Linked DNA regions of Homo sapiens. The protein of the gene in region 4 purifies or fractionates together with the protein of the main gene of each other region. This does not show direct contact. Each region holds a gene or a part of one and is shown on either strand. Other genes may lie near its edges. The genes, in order: TRPC4AP, RILPL2, DACH1 and FRAT2.

Region 1 (5,962 bases), on a different chromosome or scaffold from region 4:
GTGTAATGCTTGTTAGGACCTGGAGCTCACCTCCCCAGTCCTAATCTGTCCTGAGCCTCCATGTTGGTTGCTGGTTGGCAGATTTCTTTCTCTTCCTGTTGAGCAGCCTCCTAGAGGTTGCTGTTGCAGGGAGGTGGATGTTCATGTGCACTGTGGTGAACCCAGCGTTCATTTCTTCTTGCTGTGCTTTCCCCAGGCCTTGCTTGTCATTGCCCAGCACAAGTGGCCTATTGTCTGTAGGAACACATTGGAGATGTGTGCAGGCCCCAGACAGACCCTTTGTGCCCTTTGATAAAAAGGCTTTGTTGTTATTCCAGTAATTGTGTGTTCCAGCCAGTGTGTGAAAGGGGACCTCCAGAGTGGAAACTCCAGACTCCTTAGCAGTCTCAGCATAGGAGTCTAGAAGTGCTCCTTCACAACTTTTCCCACTTGCCTCTCACTCCCTCTCATTCCTTTTTGTGTACCCCAAAATGGCGAGGTGTTCCACCAAACATTATGGGTATCTTGGTGCAGTTTGAAAGGGGGATAGATACCATAAAGAAAGTGGAAACACCATAAACTGGGAAAAGACATTTGAATTCAGGTAACCAACAAAGGATTTGTTGTATTCAGAATTTATCAATAATTCTTACAGGCCAGGCACGGTGGCTCATGCCTGTAATTCCAACACTTTGGGAGGCTGAGGCAGGCAGATCTCTTGAGGTCAGGAGTTTGAGAACAGCCTGGCCATCATGGCAAAACCCAGTCTCATTTTGTACTAAAAAATACAAAAATTAGCCAGGCATGGTGGTGCACACCTGTAGTCCCAGCTACTTGGGAGGCTAAGGCATGAGAATTGCTTGAACCCGGGAGGCAGAGGTTGCAGTGAGCCAAGATTATGTCACTGCACTCCAGCCTGGGCAACAGAGCAAGACTCCCTCTCAAAAAAAAAAAAAAAAACAGAATTCTTACAAATCAGCATGAAAAAGAGAAATAGCCCAGTAGACAAATGGGCAATGTTATGAACAAGCATTTCACAGACAAGAAAGAAATGGTCCATAAACATAAAAGAGAAGATGTTTAACTTGATTGGCAATCAAGGAAATGCAAATCAATACCATAGTGAGGGAGAGAGTGGGCAAATGTTGGTGAGTGTGTGTATCAGTGGAAACACTTGTATACTACTGATAAATGTTTATCAGCAGAATATCCTCTTTTTTTTTGTTTTGTAGTTGAACAGGCACATATCTTGTGCCCCAGCACCTAGGGAAGCTTTACCCTGAGGGCTGAGGCATCAGTATTTTGCCATGGGTTACCTATAACCTGTGCCTGGACACACTTGTGGGGAAGCTCAGTCCTAGAACAGTGATTCTTAGGATTGAAACCCAGAAGGTTGTAAAGTCAGTCCATCGGGTCTACCAGCCAAGTAGAAAAGATCAAACTGTATTGTGTAAGGGTATTTTTTGAATAAGTTTTTGTTTGACATTTCTATATACATTCCAATATGTATGTTTACTGGTGGTCGTTCTTGGTGATAGCTAAAAAGTTTAGAAGCCACTGCCCCAGCAAAAACTTCTCCACCTGTGCATCAAGAAACACATAAGAACATTTGTAGCTTCGTTGTTTCAGAACAAAAAACTGAAACCAAGTCTCTGATCCATGAATAGGAGAAGGGATGAATGTACTTTCTTCACACAATGGAATATTATATAGTAGAAATGAATGAACTGTTGCCATAGGCAACAACATAGCTGAGTAATTGAAATAATCGAGTGGTAGAAGCCAGTTGCAGAACACTGTAGGTAGTATATCATTTTCATAAAGCTCAAAAAAGCAAATTATTTGTTGATAAAACTAGTTTTTAAATGGCAAGGCAATAATAATTAATGATGGTGGTTCCCAGAGGCAGAGAGATGCAATAGGAAAGGCACACACAGCTAGTCATTTTGTTGTGCTGCATAATACGTATTGTACATATCAAAAATTAAAACATAAGAAGTAAATTCTTGGCCAGCCACAGTGGCTCTCATGCCTGTAATCCCAGCACTTTGTGAGGCCGAGGTGGGCAGATCACTTGAGGTCAGGAGACCAGCCTGGCCAACAGGGTGAAACCCTGTCTCTACTAAAAATATAAAAATTAGCCCAGCATGGTGGTGCATGCCTGTAGTCCCAGCTACTTGGGAGGCTGGGACAGAAAAATTGCTTGAACCCAGGAGGCAGAGGTTGCAGTGAGCAGAGATTGTGCCATTGCGCTCTGGCCTGGGCATCACAGTGAGACTCCGCCTTAAAAAAAAAAATCTTAAAATTTAAGACAAAACAAAAAACCATAAGAAGTGGGCTGGGGGTGGTGGGACCTGTTTTGGGAACCATATACTGAGTTAGACAGGGCTAGAGGAACTGGTGAGCTACAAGTTACAGTTGCCAATAATAGTAGTAGCTTACATTTGTTTTGTACTAGGGAAAAGGAAAAGTGGAAGCAGTTGTTCCCCAATGCCCCCTGCACAGCAAATTCCTGTCCTCCATTACTAGAAATAGAGGCGAGTATGGGATTCATGAGAGCTTCTAGGAATCATGCACTCGTTTTGGGCACATTCACTGATACCCTTGCTACCAGGTCCTGTGCATTGAGTCTCAGGAGAAAGGGTAGGATATATGCCTTCATCAAAGTATGGTCAGATTATTTGGGAAATAGATGCAGGAACAGATTATTAAAAGTTCATGTGATCTGTGCAGTGAAAGAGAAACACCCAATCCAGTGGAAGTAAATTAGTGGGATGAAGGATAGCAGGTGTTATCTGAGTAGCACGGGGATGGTTCAAAATGAGAAAAGTTGATGTAGTACATGCCATTTACAGATTTTAAGGAGTAATGAGTGAGAATAGAACCAAATAGCACAAGGCATTCCATAAAATTATCATTCTTAATAAAAGCTAGCAATAGAAGGAAAACTTATAAACTATATATAGGGTATTTATTAAAATTTAACTTATAGGATATTAAAATTTACAGCAAATATTGAACTTAATTTTAATGTTTTGGAATTATTTCTGGTAAAGTCAAGAAAAAGACAAGAATTCTTGCTCTCACTCTGGATAAATGGTCACATACATGTGTACACAGAGAGTACCTGTAAGAATGTTCATTGCAACATTGTTTAATAGTGAAAAACTGTAGTTTACCTAAATATGTATTAAAAGAAGAAAGGGTCAGGCACAGTGGCTCATACATGTAATCCCAGCAGTTTAGGAGGCCAAGGTGGGAGGATTGCTTGAGTCCAGGAGTTCCAGCCTGGGCAACAATAGTGAGACCCTGTCTCCATAAAAATAAAGTATTGGCCAGGCGTGGTAGCTCACGCTTGTAATCCCAGCACTTTGGGAGGCCAAGGTGGATGGATCATCTGAGGTCAGGAGTTCAAGACCAGCCTGGCCAACATGGTGAAACCCCATCTCTACTAAAAAATACAAAAATTAGCCAGGCGTGGTGGCGGGCGCCTGTAATCCCCACTACTTGGGAGGCTGAGGCAGGAGAATCACTTGAACCCAGGAGGTGGAGTTTGCAGTGAGTCAAGATTGCGCCACTGCACTCCAGCCTGGGCGACAATGAGATACCATCTCAAAAAAAAAAATATTAAAAAAGTAGCCAGGTGTAATGACACGCACCTGTAGTCCTAGCTACTTGGGAAGCTGAGGTAGGAGGATTGCTTGGGCCTAGGAGTTTGAGTCTGCAGTAAGCTATGATGACACTACTGCTCCGCAGCTTGAGCAACAGAGTGAGACCCTGTCTCTTAAAAGAGAGAGATGATTAAACTGTGGGGTAAAACGGCGGGAAGTGATTGAATCAGCTGCTTGTATCAGTGTAGATAAACTTCAAAATGTTGGATGAAAAGTAAGGTATAGTATGGTATCATTCACACTGTGCATGCAGAGCAGTAACATGTATTTTAATGGAAATATTTGTAAGTATAAAAACATGCACGGGAATAATAAACACAGAGTTCAAAATAATGTTTACGTCTGCAGGGAGAGAAAAAAATGCGACTGGATGGGGGATACACAGAGGCCTTTAGCTATATTTGAAGTATTTTATTTTTTAAAAAAGCAAATCTGTAGCAAGAATGGTAATTTATGATTTCCAAAACTTGAGTGGTAGGCATTTCCTTTTTTTTTAAATAGGCAAAATATACCACAAGAACAATTGAAAACAGTGGTGCTCAAAAGGTAAATTTAGTCCTCAGACTAATCCTGTGAGGTAGATTAGTTCCGTTTTACAGATAAACAAGCAAAGACTCGAAAGGTTTTTGTAACTTAACCAAAGTTTCAGAGCTGCAAGTTACAGAGCTGGGATAGGAACCTAAGTGATCTAGCCACTAAGCCCCGTATGTAAGGGGATGCGAAAGAGAGGCACATCCAATCTCTTGAGTGAATTGAGCATGGGGATTGTTTCATTTTTGTCTTCTGTAGGAAATGATCCGACTAGATGAAGTCCCCAATCTGAGTTCCTTAGTATCCAATTTCGATCAGCAGCAGCTCGCTAATTTCTGCCGGATTCTGGCTGTCACCATTTCAGAGATGGATACAGGGAATGATGACAAGCACACGCTTCTTGCCAAAAATGCTCAACAGAAGAAGAGCTTGAGTTTGGGGCCTTCTGCAGCTGAAATCAATCAAGGTAAAGTCTCCAAGTTCTCAGAATTTTGAGATTATAGCTCTGAGGCCCTTACTAAATCATCTAGTTTTTTTTCTTTTTCTTTTCTTTTCTTTTTTTTTTTTTTTCCTTTTTTGAGATGGGATCGTCACTATGTCACCCAGGCAGGAGTGCAGTGGCACAATCGTGGCTCACTGCAGCCTTGACCTCCCCAGGCTCAGGTGATCCTCCCACCTCAGCCACCTGAGTAGCTGGAACTATAGGCAGGTGCCACCACACCGGGCTAATTTTTGTATTTTTTGTAGAGATGGGGTTTCGCCATGTTGCCCAGGCTGGTCTTGACTTCCTGGTCTCAAGTGATCCACCCACCTCATCTTCCCGAAGTGCTAGAATTACAGGTGTGAGCCACCACACCTAGCACCCCTTTTAAATATCTCTAGAGATGGATCCATGTGAAGGCTCCTAGTATGTAAATTTTGTGTATCTGTTCATTATTTTGGGAACTGAGTTCCATACCTTTCATTAGATTTGTTAATGGGCTCAGAACCACAAAAAAAGTTAAGAACTACTTTTTATCAGAATTACAAATGCATATACTTTTTGATCTACTAAGTCTCTCCTGGGCCTTCATTTTATAGATAATGATGTATAGACACTAATCTCCTCTTGTCTGCAGTTTCACTTTCTGTGGTTTCAGTTATCCGTGGTCAACTGCAATCCGAAAATATTAACTGAAAAATTCCAGAGAGAGACCACATTCGTATAACTCTTATTACAGCATCTTGTTACAATTGTTCTATTTTATCATTAGTTATTGTTAATCTCTTAGTGTACCTAATTTATAAATTAAGCTTTATCATAGTTATGTGTGTATATAAGAAAAAACATAGTATATATAGGGTTTGGTGCTATCTGCCATTTCAGGTATCCACTGTGAGGGTCTTGACTAAGGGAGGACTACTGTACAAGATTATTCACTGAGGCCAGGCACGGTGGCTTAACGCCTGTAATCCCAGCACTTTGGGAGGCCGAGGCAGGAGGATCACTTGAGGTTCAGAGTTTGAGACCAGCCTGGCCAACATGGCGAAACCCCATCTCTACTAAAAATACAAAAATTAGCTGGGTGTGGTGGTGCACGCCTGTAGTCCCAGTTACTCAGAAGGCTGAGGCAGGATAATTGCTTGAACCCAGGAGGCAGAGGTTGCTGTGAGCCCAGATTGCACCACTGCACTTCAGCCTGGGCGACATAATTAGACTCCGTCTCAAAAAAAAAAAAAAAAATTATTCATTGCAACATTATTTGTAATAACAAAAGACTAGAAACCCAGATGTTCATTAA
Region 2 (5,962 bases), on a different chromosome or scaffold from region 4:
TTGAGTAGCTGGGACTACAGGCTTGGGGTTTCACCATGTTGGCCAGGATGGTCTCAATCTTCTGACCTTGTGATCTGCCCGCCTCAGCCTCCAAAAGTGCTGAGATTATAGGTGTGACCCACTGCGCCCGGCTTTTTTTTTTTTTGAGACGGAGTCTCGCTCTGTCACTCAGGCTGGAGTGCAGTGGCACGATCTCGGCTCACTGCAAGCTCTGCCTGCTGGGTTCACGCCATTCTCCTGCCTCAGCCTCCCGAGTAGCTGGGAATACAGGCGCCCACTACCATGCCCGGCTAATTTTTTGTATTTTTAGTGGAGATGGGGTTTCACCATGTTAGCCAGGATGGTCAGCCAGGATGGTCTCCATATCCTGACCTTGTGATCTGCCCGCCTCGGCCTCCCAAAGTGCTGGGATTACAGGTGTGAGCTACTGCGCCCGGCCTACTGACTTGATTTCTGAGAATCTGAATTTTACACAAGCACCTCACTCTTAGTATAAGAGGCAGCATCCGAAGAACTATGGGATCAACCCTGGTGCACAGACATGAGGGAAGTATTCAGAGGAAAGTGCATAGCATGTTCCAATGCTGGGACACGGCTCATTCAAGAGGAATGGTCCCACGTGGGACAGGGAGAGGTCCTTGGGCATTTCCCACAGCCAGGCTGAAACTGCCTGTTGCTCCAGTTCTATTCTGGTTATCAAGAGGATATTGACTCCCTTTTTTCTTTTTTTTTTTTTTTTTGAGATGGAGTCTTGCTCTATTGCCCAGGCTGGAGTGCAGGGGTGTGATCTCAGCTCACTGCAATATCCTCCTCCCAGGTTCAAGTGATTATTCTACTTCAGCCTCCCGAGTAGCTGAAATTACAGAGGCCATGGCTAATTTTGTATTTTTATTTATTTAATTTTTATTTTTATCTATTTATTTTTTTTCAGACACAGTCTCATTCTGTCGCCCAGGCTGGAGTGCAGTGGTGCGATCTTGGCTCACTGCAACCTCTGCCTCCCAGGTTAAAGCGATTCTCCTGCCTCAGCCTCCCAGGTTAAAGCGATTCTCCTGCCTCAGCCTCCCAAGTAGCTGGGACTATAGGTACACGCCACCACACCCAGCTAATTTTTGTATTTTTAGTAGAGACGGGGTTTCTTTTTTTTTTTTTTTTTTTTGAGACAGAGTCTTGCTCTGTTGCCCAGGCTGGAGTGCAGTGGTGTGATCTTGGCTCACTGCAACATCCGCCTCCTGGGTTCATGCCATTCTCCTGCCTCAGCCTCCTGAGTAGCTGGGATTAAAGGAGCCTGCCACCATGCCTGGCTAATTTTTTTGTATTTTTAGTAGAGACGTGGTTTCACCATGTTAGCCAGGATGGTCTCGATCTCCTGACCTCGTGATCCTCCCGCCTCGGCCTCCCAAAGTGCTGGGATTACAGGCCTGAGCCACTGCGCCTGGCAGAGACGGGGTTTCACCATGTTGGCCAGGATGATCTTGATCTCTTGGCTTGGTGATCCGCCCACCTCGGCCTCCCAAAGTCTTGGGATTACAGGCGTAAGCCACTGTGCCCGGCCTATTTTTATTTTTTTTGAGACAGAGTCTCGTTTTGTTGCCCAGGCTGGAGTGCAGTGGTGCAATCTCAGTTCACTGCAACCTCTGCCTCCTGGGCTCAGGCGATTCTCCTGCCTCAGCCTCCCGAGTAGCTGGGATTACAGGCACCCGCCACCATGCCCGGCTAATTTTTGTATTTTTAGTAGAGACGGGGCTTCACCATGTTGGCTAGGCTGGTCTCGAACTCCTGACCTCAGGTGATCCTCCCACCTCAGCCTCCCGAAGTGCTGGGTTTACAGGCGTCAGCCACTGCGCCCGGTCGAGTTTGACTCTTGATTCCATTTCCTGAGCATCACCATGTGCAGCAGGAAACATTCTGGAAAGGTGTTTTCCCTGCCGTAGATTCCATGTAGCCCAAGATTAGGGGCGAATGCACTTAGGAGGTAAATAGATGCGGCTTCAGGTCTGAGTTCCACCACCACTGACCCGCTGTGTAACCTTTGCAGGTCATTGATCCTCTCTGACTCTCAGTTTGCCCGTCTGTAAAACAGATCTCCTGAGTAGATGTTTACTCAGCTCAGTGTCTGGCACATAGCAAATGCTCACTAAGTGGGAGCTATGTTAAATCTTTTTTTTTTTTTTTTTGAGACAGGGTCTCACTCTGTTGCTCAGACTGGAGTGCAGTGGCACCATCTCGGCTCACCTCAACCTCCGCCTCCCAAGCTCAAGTGATTCTCCTGCTTCAGCTTCCTGAGTAGCTGAGATTAAGGCGAACGCCACTACCACCCAGCTCATTTTTGTATTTTTTAATAGAGTCAGGGTTTCACCATGTTGGCCAGGCTGGTCTCGAACTCATGACCTCAAATGATCCACCCACCTCGGAAGTACTGGGATTACAGGTGTAAGCCACTGCATCTGGCTTAGCTATGGCGAATCTTAAGGTATGGGGAATTATCTTTCCCTTTCCCCAGTCCTACTTCATCTCATCAAATTAAACCCAACAGCCTCTGAGTAATATTGGGAAGAAAACTGCTATTTCCCTGCCCACCATACTGAGCTCACATGAACCACTGCCCCCAGAGGAAGAACCATGACTTTGCTCTCTGGAAGCTACATGCCTGACTGCCTCTTCCTTTGGTTTTTTCCTGCTGGGCCAGAGGTATTCTCCCCTGTGCTCCTGCCCCTTGCCCTCTGCCCCTGCTCCCTTCCAAGCTCCTCAAGGTCCTGTCCCTGAGAAAGAAGGCCTGGGTTATTCCTTTTTTTTTTTTTTTTTTTTGAGTCTCGCTCTGTTGCCCAGGCTAGAGTGCAGTGGCACAATCTCGGCTCACTGCAACCTCCACCTCCCGGGCTCAAGCGATTCTCCTGCCTCAGCCTCCCGAATAGGTGGGATTACAGGCATCTGCCATCACGCCCGGCTAATTTTTGGATTTTTAGTAGAGACGAGGTTTTGCCATGTTGGCCAGGCTGGTCTCGAACTCCTGACCTCAGGTGATCTGCCCGCCTCAGCCTCCCAAAGTGCTGGGATTACAGGAGTAAGCCACCGTGCCTGGTCATCGCTATTATCATTTTTGTTTTCTTTCTTTCTCTCTCTTTTTTTTTTTTTTTGAGATAGGGTCACGCTCTGTTACCCAGGCTGGAGTGCAGTAGCGTGATAATAGTGATAATAGTTTACTGCAGCCTTGAACTCCTGGGCTTAAGTAATCCTCCAGTCTCATCCTCCTGAGTAGCTGGGACCACAGGTGCAGGCCACCACGCCCAGCTAATTTCACTTGATCTCAGCTAAAAGGCCGACAAATGATACCAGCTAATTAAAAAAAAAAAAATTGGCCAGGCGCAGTGGCTCATGCCTGTAATCCCAGCACTTTGGGAGGCTGAGGCAGGTTGGTCACGAGGAGTTCAAGACCAGCCTGTCCAACATGGTGAAACCCCATCTCTACCAAAAATACAAAAATTAGCCAGGCATGGTGGCGCATGCCTGTAATCCCAGCTACTCAGTAGGCTGAGGCAGGAGAACTGCTTGAACCTGGGAGGCAGAGGTTGCAGTGATCCGAGATTGCACCACTGCACTCCAGCCTAGGCGACAGAGTGAGACTTTGTCTCAAAACAAAAAACAAAACGATGTTTTTTCATTGACATGGGGTCTCACTTTGTTGCCCAGGCTAGTCTCAAACTCCTGGCTTCAAATGAATCTCTTGCCTCAGCCTCCTGTAATCACTGTTGAGATTACAGGTGTGAGCCATTGCACCCAGCCTGGTCAAACATCACAGGGAGGCAGTGGAGTGTAGAAGCCAGACTTCCTTGGGTTCCTGACTTCACTATTTACCCTCTGTGAGACCTTGGGCAAGTTACCTTACCTCTCAGTAGCTATTTCTCCATCTGTAAAATAGTATCTACCTTGCAGGGTCACTGTGATGATTCGATGAATTAATATATGCCAAGTGCCTAGGCTACTGCCTGGCAGATATCATTATAATACACTGGCATTGAGTTTTCCCATGGGCTGCAGCACCACAACCGGGAGAGTAGAGGCCCTCCCTGCCCTGGGCAGCTGGTCAGCCTCTTCTTGCCCCCGACTACTTCCTTGAGTTATTATTTGGCGGGACCGGGGGGCAGCAAGGTGACACTTACAGCTTTTTTATGATTGTCTTCTCCTCCTTGTTCCTGCCAGCATTTTTGGCACTAGTAACCACAGCATCTTTTTCTCTTCTTCCTCCTGGGCCTTCTCTTGGTGGAATCAGGCCACTGGGAAACGGGACAAAAAATAAATGGATTATTTTATTACAGATCGTTTTTTTTTTTTTTTTGAGTTGGAGTCTTTCTCTGTTGCCCAGGCTAGAGTGCAGTGGCGCCATCTCAGCTCACTGCAACCTCCGCCTCCCGGGTTCAAGTGATTCTCCTGCCTCTGCCTCCTGAATAGCTAGGACTACAGGCGCCTGCCACCATGCTCGGCTAATTTTTGTATTTTTAGTAGAGATGGGCTTCACCGTGTTGCCCAGGCTGGTCTCAAACTCTTGACCTCAAGTGATCCATCTGCCTCAGACTCCCAAAGTGCTGGGATTACAGGCATGAACCACTGAGCCTGGCTTTTATTACAGACCTCTTATCTGTGCAGCTCTGAAAATAAAGGGTCTTAATGATGATGATGATGATTATGGTAATATTACGGTTGAAAGCACTAGAGTCAGAGAAATTCTGTTTAAAATTAGAATCTTCCCTGTACCTTTCCAATGTGATGCCTCGTTTCTTTTTTTTTTTTGAGACGGATTCTCGCTCTGTTGCCCAGGCTGGAGTGCAGTGGCGCGATCTCGGCTCACTGCAAGCTCCGCCTCCCAGGTTCCCGCCATTCTCTTGCCTCAGCCCCCCGAGTAGCTGGGACTATAGGCGCCCGCCACCACACCCGGCTCATTTTTTGTATTTTTAGTAGAGACAGGGTTTCACTGTGTTAGCCAGGATGGTCTCAATCTCCTGACCCAGTGATCTGCCCGCCTCAGCCTCCCAAAGTGCTGGGATTACAGGTGTGAGCCACCGTGCCTGACCCTCTTGTTTCTTTCTCTTACCTAATTGCATTGGCTACTGCTTCAAGCTTCTCAGTTTTCTAGGAATATGATTGTGTATAAATTCTCTAACTTAAGCCTTGGTTTCCTAACCTATAAAATGAGTCTAATAATAGTACCTACCTCAAAGGATTGAGAGATTATCTAAGATGATACATAGTGCTTAACATTCAACAAATATTTATTAAGCTACCTACTGTGGTTAATAAATATTTTGTCTCTGAACTGTTTTGTCTCTGAACAAAATAGACAAAATATATTCTCTCACGTAATTTATATTCCAGTAGGAGAAGGAAACAGTCAATAAAGAAATAAGTAAAATAAAAGTATAAATTGTAAGTCAGATGTTGATAAGAGTTAGATTTTTTTTTTTTTTTTTTGAGACAGAGTCTTGCTCTGTCGCCCAGACTGGAGTGCAGTGGCACGATCTCGGCTCACCGTAGCCTCTGCCTCCCGGGTTCAAATGATTCTCCTGCCTCAGCCTCCCAAGTAGCTGGGATTACAGGTGTGCACCACCACGCCTGGCTAATTTTGTATTTTTAGCAGAGACAGGGTTTCTCCATGTTGGTCAGGCTGGTCTCAAACTCCCGACCTCAGGTGATCCACCCGCCTTGGCCTCCCAAAGTGTTGGGATTACAGGCATGAGCCACCACACCCAGCCCCTTCCCAATTATGTTACCAAAAAATTTCCTTTTGTGTTTAAGCTAGTTTAAATCGGACTTCTGTCACTTGCAACCATAAGAAGACTGACCAAAATGAAACATTTCAATTACGGCACAGTACAACTCATTACATCCACTTAAGCGTTTTGTTGCAGTGCCCACTGGTAAATTTACCCCCATGGTGTTGTCCCCTTGCTGTGGACTGAATTGTGTG
Region 3 (5,962 bases), on a different chromosome or scaffold from region 4:
AAGATTGAAATTATACATTAAGTAAAATGACTGAATATGTTGTGTCTCAATTTATAGAAAGTTTCAATTGAATAGTTAAGCTTTTAAATCATAAACACTTGCATAAATTAAAATATTTTCTTCAAATAACAGTATTAACTGTTGTTTTTGTATCCTTTGTTCTTGAACACAAAACTACAATTAAAGCAAAAACTAAGTTAAAGGTAAATTAAATACTATTATTTTACTTATACATATTTACTGAGCTTTATTATGCTTTTAAAATGCATTTTACATAAAGATTTCAATCTAATTTATTTTTACTTAGTATAATATGCCTTTTTAAGAGTATTTTGGATGTGTAAATGAGTAACTGAACAATTCATGAATTAAAGGGATGATCACAGACAACTTTGACATTTAAGTACATTGACTAATAAAGCATTTTTCTACTTATATGGGAAATGTTAAAATAAACAAGGAATTATTTTAATGGCATAATAATTGTTTCCAGAGATTTATGCATTAAATATTTAAGCATTTTATGAGTTAAATATCTCAGAAAAATTATATTCTCATGCTTTCCATTAGCACTACCAAGAAATCTATTATGACAGGAAAATCAGACTTGCAAAATCATTTTAGAGAGACTGATTTATTTCAAGATTGTACTTTATGTCTGTTCAGCCAAACATGCATTAACATAATGATTAAGAAAAATGTTAAAATTTATTGATAGATAAGCATTGATGTGAGTGAACTTTGGAATAAAATAGAATGGTTAATTTAGAAAATTCTCTTTATACAAAAATATATCAATGCATTTTCTTAAATACACACCATGTATTTCTGTGTAATCCAAGTGCTAACAGTTAGATGTATTAGGAATTAGCTCTAAAGCTTAGACAAACTATGCTTCTATTAGAATTTCAAGAAATCAAGATTAGACTTTAAGAGTATATCTCTGGACATGTATGCAGTTAGCTGCAGTATTGTTTCTTGATATATTTATACAAATTATAAAGGAGTTCTACATATAGCCTTATAAATGCATCCTCTATGATAAGTGCGCAAATACTCCAAAACCATACACAACTAAACTTTTGAATTATGGTGTGGCTAACACAAGCCAAGATTGTCTTTTGATTTGTGATTACAATGATTTGATATGAGAATATTGCCATTTGAAACTTCTTTATAGTTTAGGGTAATTATAATTAGAAGACAGGAAGTAAGTTTTGGCATCCAGATGTGAAGTTTCTGCTCTTTTAAGTCATATACATGTTTGTTTTTTAAAACTGTTGGTCGTTTGTTTGCCTTAGACGTTTTAGAAGCATACATGCTTCATTTTGTTAGCTTGGAAAAGTAACTGATAATATATTCGTTTTCCATGTTACCTGTGATAAAGATTTCAAAATATCTTAATCTGCAAACTGTAAAGTTGGATGCCATCTTTCTGTAGTATCCTAGCGTGTAACAAATGCATACATGTTATAAACGTCTCTGAACAAGTTAGTTTCAAATTTTAATATCTGGGATGTATGTTTGTCTTTGTCCCCCCTTGTTTTCTCTCTCCTCTTCCCATCTCTTCTCTCTGTCTCTTTCTCTTTCTCTCTCCCTCCCACTTATTTGCATATTTGCAGTATTTTAAGTGGAAACCCCACATAACTTGAGATGGAAAATATATTGTGTGTTGCTTACATTTACCTACATATCAGTTTTGCTATTTGCATAAAATAAAACACTTAATTGTTAACCCCGATCAATTAAGGTAAAGGGCTAATGCTTTTTAGTATAATACTAACAATACGTCTGCCTTCTGTGGGAGTTTATTGTCTTTTACAGAAGCCTATCAGCACATATTAGCTCTGTACAAAAACTCTTAAAGTTCAACAAGTTATCATTACGACAAGATTGTAATACGCATTGCAACTTTCGAGATTAAAATTTAATTGACCTCTTTTTTCTTTTCCTTTACAATATTGTTTTGTCATGAAGCTTCTTATAGCGCTTTTTTTTTTTAATTCCATGGAATATATGTTAGGAAACCATTTTATGACATGGATTTGGGAAAAGGGCTTGGCTATTTTTTCTGGTTATTTTCATTTTATTTGTCAGGGTCTTCAAAATGAAGTCTCAGCATATCTGTTGAAGATGTTTATTGGCAATGTACATCATTGAAAAATTAAAAGAGTGTGACAAAAGTACAGCTCAATCTTGGTTCCATATTAAAATCATAGGGAGAGCTTTTAAAAAGATACCGAAGTCTGGGTCCCATTTTAGACCTAGTGTATTAGATTTCTAGGGCCACTGTAACAAAGAACCAGAAACTGGGTACCTTAAAACCACAGAAATTTATTGTCTCTCATTATTGGAGTCTAGAAGTTCAAAATCAGGAGTTCATGAGGACCATGCTCCCTTTGAGATACTAGGTAGAATCCTTCGCTTTCTATAGCTTCTGGTAGCAGCTGGCAATCCTTGCCATTCCCTGGCTTGAAGCTGCACAAGTTTAATCTCTTCCTCTATGGTCACATGACATTCTTCCCTCCTATCTTCACATCTACTTGTAAGGACACGACTCACGTGGGATTAAAAGCCACCCTAATCCAGTATGTTCTCATCTTAACTAATTATGTCTGCAAAGACTCAGTTTTCAAGTACATTCATATTGATAGGGACCAAAGGTTAGGGCTTCAACAGATCTTTTTGGGGAACACAATTAAGCCATAATACTCAGTAAACCAGAATCTCTGGGAGTGAAACTCAAGCATAAGCGCATTTAAGAACATGCCAGGTGATTCTGATGTGCAGCAGGATTTCAAACCATCATGGTGCTAATGGAATCACTTTGACCAAAGATGAGCACGATCATCATTCTCACTGGCAGTACAAAACCTGGAACCTCCTATTTGTTTTCCGTATTAAGTTAACATTGACATTTTGGAAACATTAGCCTCCTACAGGCCAATTACATTTTAGATTTTTTTTCTCTATTTTGTAATTGCATATTTTCTCTCTAATAAGGAATAATGTACTAATTATTTATAAGTACATTATACATCTACATACTTTATATAGTTTTCTTCCACACTTTTAACTATTTATTATTACAAAGACAGTTCATCAAGGCCTGTGTCTGTTAATAACTGAGGGTATAAATATTTTGCTGCTCAAAGTAGAAAATGTTCACCAATGGGTACCTTCTTTCTTAATCTGTAATTCCATTTATAATAGCTAATTGGAGACATTTATAGAATCTACTTGCAGATTTGTCTAATGGAGAATGTACAGAGCTTAGAGAGGGAGGTGTGGAGAGAGACAAGACTGTTGACATAAAATAGAGTATCAGGAAGCACAGTACCAAATTTCCCTGGGACATGATTGATATATATTTCATAAATGTGCCCTTAATACAGTTGTGTGGTTGAATTGAAGCTAGGTGTGGTAGGTACTCTGAGAATTATTTAAACCAAAGAAAATTATTCCAATATTAAATAATAATCCATTTCCATGATGCCTGAAAATGTGACTGAGTATGTCCAGAGCAGTACTAGGATGGAATACCTGTTAAAAACTCCTCTGGTATTATTATTATGGTCAGTCATGTTGATAATGTGTTTATTACATGATCTTTAGATACTTGCAGAAATAAGGGAATATATTTAAAGATTTCTTCAAAATGATAAATAATCCTTCTTTATTCTCTGAGATCTTTGTTGTCTAATGGGTTCTTATTTGTTTATTTTTGGGCGTCTTCCTAGGGCTTACTTTTTCTCCAGAGTGGATTGACATTCGCCATTACTGCAGTCACGCTTACCTGTAGAACCATAGTTTCATAGACCATCTTTTTCTACTTTATTTGGCTTGCTCAAGATAAACATATCTTTTAGTACAGTTAAATGCTGATGAAGTAAAGTGTTTATTCTCTTTACATTTCTTATTGTATTGAGAAAAAACAACATTCATTAAGTAAAGATCCGTTGTATTTAACATCTTTTCTACCCTCCTTCCCTCTCTTGCTGGTGCAGGAGCGTGTTCCTGATAGCCCCTCACCTGCCCCCTCTCTGGAGGAGGGGAGAAGGCCTGGCAGTCACCCATCATCACATCGCAGCAGCAGCGTGTCCAGCTCCCCTGCTCGGACTGAGAGCTCTTCTGACAGAATCCGTAGGTCTCATACTTCTACTTGTCACCATTTTAAACTTTATTAGGGTTCAGCTGGATTTTCTAATCAACATGCCCTCATTCCAAATAGATCTCAGATGGATCATGTTCTGAAACTCTGTAGCAATAGCCATCTCTCAAAATTATGTTTCCCAGTTTGCAATATCATGAGGTATGATACTACATTAACAGGTCCTGATATAAATTTCCTCTCTTTGATGCCACATATAAAGATTTGAGCTATGAAACAGAGAAAATAAGTAACCGTTTAGATTGGTTTCTGAAGTAAACACAGCCAATTCTCAAATATCTAGTGTCTTGGTACACTGTTTATGGATTATTCAACATCATTCCTCAAATCCTACTCTGCCATTTTTGTAATTCACTGACTTTTAAATTTTATCCTTGTGTTAATGGAGATATCCACAAAGAGAAATCAGTTAAATTCAAAATACTAAACTTAAAAAGCATACATTTCTAAGTCATTCAGGTGGTCAATGGATTAAATAATTTGAAATTAGCTAAGTTTGAGAATTTGAATTAGTAACAATCAATAATGCATAGTATTGCCATATATTGTTATTTTTAAAATTTGGAAAGTAGGGCTGTGTGTTATTTTATAATATTTTCACAATATTTAATCTTGGTAGTTATGGCCAAGAAAATTAAGAATAAAGTTAAAATGCCATCCAATTAACAAGTGATTTTTGTGTCTGTACAATAATCTCAGATTGTTCTTTTGATAAATGACTATATTAAAAGAGAATAACTTGTTTGATAAAACCTATATATATTGCTTATTCCCAGAATTTAGCTATTATTTTATGCAATTATGTTTATAGCATACACTTCATCTAATTGTACAAAGTTTATTTAAGTTATTTGGTTGTCGAGAATATTTTCATAATAGGAAAGCATTTTCTAGAAAGTCACTTTATAGGTTATAAAGGAATGTATGCATAAAGTGAAAATTGTTGATCTGGGAGCTATTGAAGTGGATAATTTAAAGATTAAGTTGAATGCTGTGTAAATAATTATAAATAAAAGATAGTCAATTATTGGCAATTATATAGTTCAACATAATACTAAATATATATACTTGCTTTGGCCTGCCGGAAACGTATTTCCTTAATTTTGTAACTTTATATACAATTTTAAAACAGTTTTCAAATGAAATATTTACTGTATATTTTTATGGTATGTTGACACTAGAATCAGAAATTTAATGATAAATATTGGTTTCATTATAAGATATTGTCATTGGAAAGGTGCTGTCCTAGAGAAAAAAAAATTGGAACAAAATGAAAATGATGGACAGATGGGGGAAGATTTGAATGAGTTTTGTTATACATTCATGTTATTTTAGTAATGGTAATATTCTTTTTTCAATTTTTGATAGAAACAAAGGAGACATTTTTGTATGCCTGGGATACCATAATTGTTGAAATGGAAATACATCCACATCCACACACATACATATATATGTACATATATGTAACATATTACTTTAAAGTAATTTTAGACTAACAGAAAATTTTCAAATATAATGCAAATCATTCTTATGTGTTTGTCATCCTGATTTACCTCATCAGTCAACCAATCAAGTTCTCTGAAAGTGATATCTCAATATAGGCATAATGTCACCTAGTGCTTCTGTCATAGATTTAATACAACTTTATCTCAAATTCATCATCGTTTATCTTCTAGAAACAAGAGCATTATTTTACATAAGAGAAAAATGATCAAAATCAGGAAAATAACATTATTATAGTACTAAAATTTGAACTACAGTTTTTATTTAAATTGCACTGGTTTTCCCACC
Region 4 (6,474 bases):
CTGGAATTGAGCCAGACCTCTGTTAGTAAACCGCTGGACCTAATCCTACATTTGTGTAATGCCTGACAACACCCGTTCCCATTATCTTATTTGATCCTGAAAACAATCCTCAGAGGGAGGCCAGGCAGGGATTATTTCTCCTATTTACAAGTGAAAACACTTGTAAACTGATTTGCCTGGAGTCCCACACCCAGGATGTGGCAGGAATGAGACTTGGATCTAGGTCTTTGTACAACCTGTTCTGGGTTCTTTTGACTTCACACAACAGACTGATCAAAACATTCCCAGCCCCACCCACTCCTCACAACCACCAGCTTAACCAGCAACTGGAAACTCACCAGACAGCTTGTGTTTATGCTACCCTCACACCTCTGTCCTAGTGAAGAAACACACCTTTGGCTGGCAAGCTCTCCAGGAAAAAATTAATTTCATGTCATCTCCTTGAAACAAAGACCAACATTAATCCCAGATGGATTTGAAAAAAAAATCAAGGCATTTGAAAAATCTAAAGAAAATAGAATGGAATATTTAATAACTTTCTGGCAGCAAGGAGACTCCAAATTTAGCATCGTGTTAGAAATTTCAAAGAGATTTTAAAATTTGCCTACATGAAAATTTGGTTTTAGTGGGGGAAAAAATGACTGTACAGAGCCAACAAAAGCCTGGAGACGTATTTGCGGCAAAATATGAAAAGGGTTAACATTTGGTATGTAAAGGAGTCATGCAAATACGTAAGAAACACTCCCTAGGAAAATCTTATTAGGAAATAGACAATTCATAAGAAAGGAAGTACAGTTTGTTAACAAACATTTAGAAAACTGCTCTACCTAACTGAAATCAAAGATATGCAAACTGAAGGGAGAAAATTTCCCTATATAATCCGCAAAAAAAAAAAAATTCAATAATACTCAAATACTAGTGAAGGTGTAATGATGTATGCTCAAGCATTAATGATGGTAGAGTACATTTACCTAACTCTTGGAAAGACACTTCCTGAACATTTATCAGTAAACCTTAAAATACCCAACTACTGTGACTTAAAATTCCACTCCTGGGAATATGCCCTAAGGAAAGAATCATCAATATCTTAAAGTGTCGCGCACAAAAATGTTAGTTACACACTTAACGATGGTGAAATTAGGCAAATGTTAAAAACATAGGCACTTGATGGAAACTTATGTAATCATTAAAATGTTTTCAAAGTGCATGCAATAACACGAAAAACGTTTATGATGTAAGGCAAAGTGGAAAAGTGTGTAACACTGTATGCATGTGTTTGTATACTACACTTTCATAGAACAAAGGCTAAAAAGGAAAAAAATTTAAATGTGAACCATGAGAGATTTTTTCCATCCCTTATATTTTTCTTTTTTTTTTTGAGACGGAGTCTCGCTTTGTTGCCCAGGCTGGAGTGCAGTGGCGTGATCTCGGCTCACTGCAACCTCCGCCTCCAGGGTTCAAACCATTCTCCTGCCTCAGTCTCCCGAGTAGCTGGGATTACAGGCGCCCGCCACCACGCCCGGCTAATTTTTGTATTTTTAGCAGAGATGGGGTTTCACCATGTTGGCCAGACTGGTCTGGAACTCCTGACCTCAGGTGATCCGCCCGCCTCGGCCTCCCAAAGTGTTGGGATCACAGGCATGAGCCACCCACCGCTCCTGGCCAATCCCCTATATTTCTATTTGAACCTTAAAAAAAAAAAAAGACCCTTCTTTAGCCGAGCGGCGGTGAGTCCTATTCTCATGATATGTCCGGGGGCTTGAAGACTGCGGGAGGGAAAGCCTCTGGGACCTCACCTCAGAGCGATTCTGCTCTGCTTCAAAGCGTCCCCTCTTAGGCCGGGCGCGGCGGCTGACGCCAGTAACCCCAACACTTTCGGAGGCCGAGGAGCGAGGACTCCTTGAGCCCAAGAGTTCGAGACCAGCCTGGGCAATATAGTGAGACCCCCCCCCCCCACCACCGTCTCTACAAAAAAAATTTTTTTAATTAGCCAGGCGTGGTGGCCGCGCCTGTGGTCCCAGCTGCTCCGGAGGCTTAAAGTGGGATGATTACTTAAGCCAGAGTTCGAGGCTGCAGTCAGCCGTGTTCGCGCCACTATACTTCAGCCTGGGCGACAGAGACCTTTTCTAAATAATAAATAAGTAAATAAGTAACGTGCCGCCTCTTCACTCCCAATTCCCTCCGCCTTTCCCCGCCCCGCCTCGTCGAAGCCGGACCCGCGGCGGCCCGCCCCTCCCCCACGACCAGGGCCGGGAACTGCGGGTGCGCGGGGCGGGAGTCGGGCGGGCTTAGGCGCGGCCGACACGTGGGGAGGGAGGCCGCGGCCCAGGAGGCGGGCCCGGAGTGGGTGTGGGTGTGTCCGTGCGTGGGAGAAACCAACCTCAGCCTCCTCCGAGGCGCCACGTTTCAGCACGGCTCGTTGGGCCCGGGAGGTCGGAAATCAGTCCCCACGCCCCGGACCCCCTCCTGGAGGGACAACGAACACAGGCGCGGGACGGCTTCGGTCACCGCCCGCGCCGCCCTTTGCCCCCGTGCCTGCTCGCGCGTCACCCCCGCCCCGGTGCGGTGGTAGGGCCCGGCGCGACGTCACCCATTGTTTACAAATCAACCCGAGCCGGCAGGATTCCGGCTCCAGCGGCTGCAGGCGCGTGGCTCGAGTGCCTGGCGGGCTCCGGCTTCCGCGTCCGCCCCTGCTCCGGCTTCGCCCGCAGCTCCGCGCCCGCGGGCAACCAAGCCCCCAGCGAAGCCCGCACAGCTCCGGGTGCCAGGACGGGGGGCCATGCCGTGCCGGAGGGAGGAGGAAGAGGAAGCCGGCGAGGAGGCGGAGGGGGAGGAAGAGGAGGACGACAGCTTCCTCCTGCTGCAGCAGTCGGTGACGCTGGGCAGCTCGGGCGAGGTGGACCGGCTGGTGGCCCAGATCGGCGAGACGCTGCAGCTGGACGCGGCGCAGGACAGCCCGGCCTCGCCGTGCGCGCCCCCGGGGGTGCCGCTGCGGGCCCCGGGGCCCCTGGCTGCGGCGGTGCCGGCGGACAAGGCCCGGCCCCCGGCGGTGCCGCTGCTGCTGCCGCCCGCTTCGGCTGAGACGGTGGGCCCGGCGCCCTCTGGGGCCCTGCGCTGCGCCCTAGGGGACCGCGGCCGCGTGCGCGGACGCGCTGCGCCCTACTGCGTGGCGGAGGTCGCCGCAGGCCCCAGCGCGCTGCCGGGGCCGTGCCGGCGAGGATGGCTCAGGGACGCGGTCACCTCCCGCCGCTTGCAGCAGCGCCGATGGACCCAAGCCGGGGCACGCGCCGGCGACGACGACCCGCATCGGCTCCTCCAGCAGCTCGTGCTCTCGGGAAACCTCATCAAGGAAGCCGTGCGGAGACTCCAACGAGCCGTCGCCGCGGTTGCAGCCACGGGCCCCGCAAGCGCCCCTGGGCCCGGGGGAGGCCGCAGCGGACCTGACCGCATTGCCCTGCAGCCCTCAGGCTCCTTGCTCTGACGCAGGCCTCCTGGAGGAGGAAGTGGAGGCCGCTGCGTAGACCCAACAGCGTCCAGTTCCTACTAACTCTGAGCTGAAGCCGACGTCGCCAGCCTGGGAGCGACCACTTTGGCTGCGGGGAGGCGCGTGGGGAGAGATCTCAACCAGAGAAGTTACCAGCCGCGGCGAGGCCGTCGGAGAAAACTTAAGCGTGGAGAAATGTATGCGCCAGGGTGCTTCCGTGGGGCATGAGAATTTCCCGGGCCATCCAAGCCCAAGGACCTGGGATAAACTGGGAGAACTATGGCAGCTACTTGCATCGACTTGTACCTCACTTAGCCCTTGGGGGCGTCGTGAGCTTGGATTGTTTAAGGAGGGCTCAGGGGTAGGAATCGCGATGGCTTTATAACAATACTTGAAAACTAACGACACGCATACATTTTCTTATTTTCTGGTGGAGGAGCTTAGTAAGTGGTGCTACAATTGCTGTGCAAAGAAATTCCAGAGGGGAGAAGAATGTAAAAGTTTGGTGGTGGGTGGCTTGGCATTGCCCCTTTTTCCCACCGATTCGGTGGCTGGTGAAGGTGGGAGATGTGAACTCCAATTAAGGGACTGGAGAGAGGTGAAGAATTTTGCAGGTGGGAGATTTGGATTTGAATGTGGACTTGTAAATGACTTGACCTTGCCATCTGTGTTCAAGGTCACGGTTTGCTGTGGGGTTCCTGGGAGAGCTTACTCACCCCGGAGTCTTTTCTTTCTCTTGCTCCAAGAAGAGCCCTGTTGGTGCTTTACCACCGCTTGGAGTCTCCCGAGGACACAAACAGGCAGAGAGGGACGTGTAGGGAGAGTTCTTTCCTGTTTTCTGTGCTTTCCTTTTTACAGGACTCCCGGAAGGCCACTCATGGCCATGCCAGGAGCTTTCTCAGAAACAGTCATAAACGATCTCTTGAGTCTCTTTCTTGTCCTCCCAGCTGAGCTTTCTTATTCCACCCTTTCTGGTGTCTATAGGAATGCATGAGAGACCCTGGACGTTTTTCTGCTCTCTTCTGGCCCTCCATGGAGTCATGGGCCTCGGCCTCGGCGGCTCCTCACCCTCACAATTTATTTCCTCCTCCCGTGCCAGCCCTTCTTTTGTGTCTGAAACCGGTTTTAAAATGTGACTCTCCCAGAGAAGAAGCCGCTGGCTGTATGAAACTTGACGGCGCTTTTGTAAGGTGCCACCCCCAAACTTTAAGGTAGCTAAACCAATTTTTAAAAGATTCAATGGCTTGTTCATCCTCCAGATGTAGCTATTGATGTACACTTCGCAACGGAGTGTCTGAAATTGTGGTGGTCCTGATTTATAGGATTTCATAATTAAAATGTCTGCTGAATAAATTTGGCTTTTGTTTTGGAGCACGGTTTGGCATTTTGGTGGAAGGTGGGAGAGGGGCAGAAAAGCATATGGGGATGTCCTTAATAAAGAGGGCACTTGGGCTAAACCGGGGGGGGGGGACCTGGACAAATGGTTTGGGCCAATGCTGATGGGCACAGAATCCTAGTAGAGCCACAGGACTTGAGTGCTTCTAAGTTTTTATTCCACAAGATCAGAAAATTGAGTCCAGGTTTTTAGAAGCTGCAAGATGGGCTTCCACTCCCTTTGTGGAAAGACAATGTATTCTAGAAATGCTTTCTGGGCTGGAGAGCAAAGAGGTGCTGTGGTGGAGGGAGGTGGGTTTTCATCTGGACGTTTTTGTGCAAAATGGGGAGGGCACAGGCGAAGCCAGCCTGCTTTCCCCTTTGAGACTGACCTAGTCTTGAGCTATGGCCTTGGGAGAGAAAAACAGGGTTTTACAGCAGTGTATTTGGTAGTTGTAAAATGGCTTGGTTTGAGCACTCAGGGGTTAGATTTGACCGAAGTAGCCCTCCTCCTCTCCTCATTCTCTCTCTGCCCTGTCTTCCCAGGCATAGAGCCCTTGCTGAATCCCTTCCTAGTTCCTGCCTTGCCCTTTTCTCTTTTTAATTTAATTTTATTATTTTGAGATGGTGTCTTACTCTGTAACCCAGGTTGGAGTGCAGTGGCACGATCTTGGCTCACTGCAGCCTCAACCTCCTGGGCTCAAACAGTCCTCTCACCTCAACCTCCTGAGTAGCTGGGACTACAGGCTCATACCACCATGCCAGGCTAATTTTTTATATTTTTAGTAGAGATGGGTTCTCACTGTGTTGCCCAGGCTGGTCTTGAACTCGAGCTCAAGTGATCTGCCCTCCTCGGCCTCCCAAGGTGCTGGGATTAAAGGCGTGAGCCACCACACCTGGCCCCTGCCTTGCCCCTTCCTTGCCCAGCTCTACTAACCCAGCCCCCGGGGAACCTCTCCTGCTCAGCACACTCCCGAGGCTGGGGCTGCAGAGGAAGGCTGATGCTCAGTTGCCTCAGCCCTTTCTGCTCACCAGCTGTGTCATGGTGGGCAAGTCAAGACTCTGAGTTTTTCCCTTGTGATTTGTAAAACAATAGTACTTAATAGGGGAGTTGGAAGGGTTAAATGAGGACTTGAAGGGGAGACTTCATTGCTCAAAAAGTGATAGCTGCTCATTCTTGGTACTACCACATGGCTTTATGTGCCACGAGGTAGGCACTATTTTTCCATCTTATAGATAAGGACTACAGACAATGGGAAAAGACCTACAAGATCTGAGTGTTTCTCTACTTCCTAGGTAGAGATGGAGCTGATCCCTGTTAGGGCAGGCACCCTGGTTGGCACCTTTTACAAGATTTTTTTTTTTTTGAGATGGAATCTCGCTCTGTCGCCTGGCTAGAGTGCAGTGGTGTGATCTCAGCTCACTGCAGCCTCCCTCTCCTGGGTTCAAGTGATTCTCCTGCCTCAGCCTCCCGAGTAACTGGGACTACAGGAGCATGCCACCACACCCAGCTAATTTTTGTATATTTAGTAGAGACGGGGTTTTACCATGTTGGCCAGGATGGTCTCGATCTGACCTTGTGATCCGCCTACCTTGACCTCCCAAAGTGCTGGAAT

Evidence for each region.
Region 1: the proteins of FRAT2 (region 4) and TRPC4AP purify together in Homo sapiens (affinity purification with mass spectrometry; one large-scale study listed by BioGRID and IntAct). This does not show direct contact.
Region 2: the proteins of FRAT2 (region 4) and RILPL2 purify together in Homo sapiens (affinity purification with mass spectrometry; one large-scale study listed by BioGRID and IntAct). This does not show direct contact.
Region 3: the proteins of FRAT2 (region 4) and DACH1 purify together in Homo sapiens (affinity purification with mass spectrometry; one large-scale study listed by BioGRID and IntAct). This does not show direct contact.

What each region holds. Positions count from the first base shown.
Region 1 is NC_000020.11:35,043,190-35,049,151, reverse strand, and holds part of TRPC4AP (short transient receptor potential channel 4-associated protein), read left to right. Parts: intron 1-4,439; coding exon 4,440-4,647; intron 4,648-5,962. UniProt on the Homo sapiens protein: Substrate-recognition component of a DCX (DDB1-CUL4-X-box) E3 ubiquitin-protein ligase complex required for cell cycle control.
Region 2 is NC_000012.12:123,418,884-123,424,845, forward strand, and holds part of RILPL2 (RILP-like protein 2), read right to left. Parts: intron 4,275-5,962; coding exon 4,161-4,274; intron 1-4,160. UniProt on the Homo sapiens protein: Involved in cell shape and neuronal morphogenesis, positively regulating the establishment and maintenance of dendritic spines. Plays a role in cellular protein transport, including protein transport away from primary cilia.
Region 3 is NC_000013.11:71,558,001-71,563,962, reverse strand, and holds part of DACH1 (dachshund homolog 1), read left to right. Parts: intron 1-4,007; coding exon 4,008-4,143; intron 4,144-5,962. UniProt on the Homo sapiens protein: Transcription factor that is involved in regulation of organogenesis. Seems to be a regulator of SIX1, SIX6 and probably SIX5.
Region 4 is NC_000010.11:97,330,878-97,337,351, reverse strand, and holds FRAT2 (GSK-3-binding protein FRAT2), read left to right. Parts: upstream 1-2,622; 5' UTR 2,623-2,779; coding exon 2,780-3,481; 3' UTR 3,482-4,855; downstream 4,856-6,474. UniProt on the Homo sapiens protein: Positively regulates the Wnt signaling pathway by stabilizing beta-catenin through the association with GSK-3.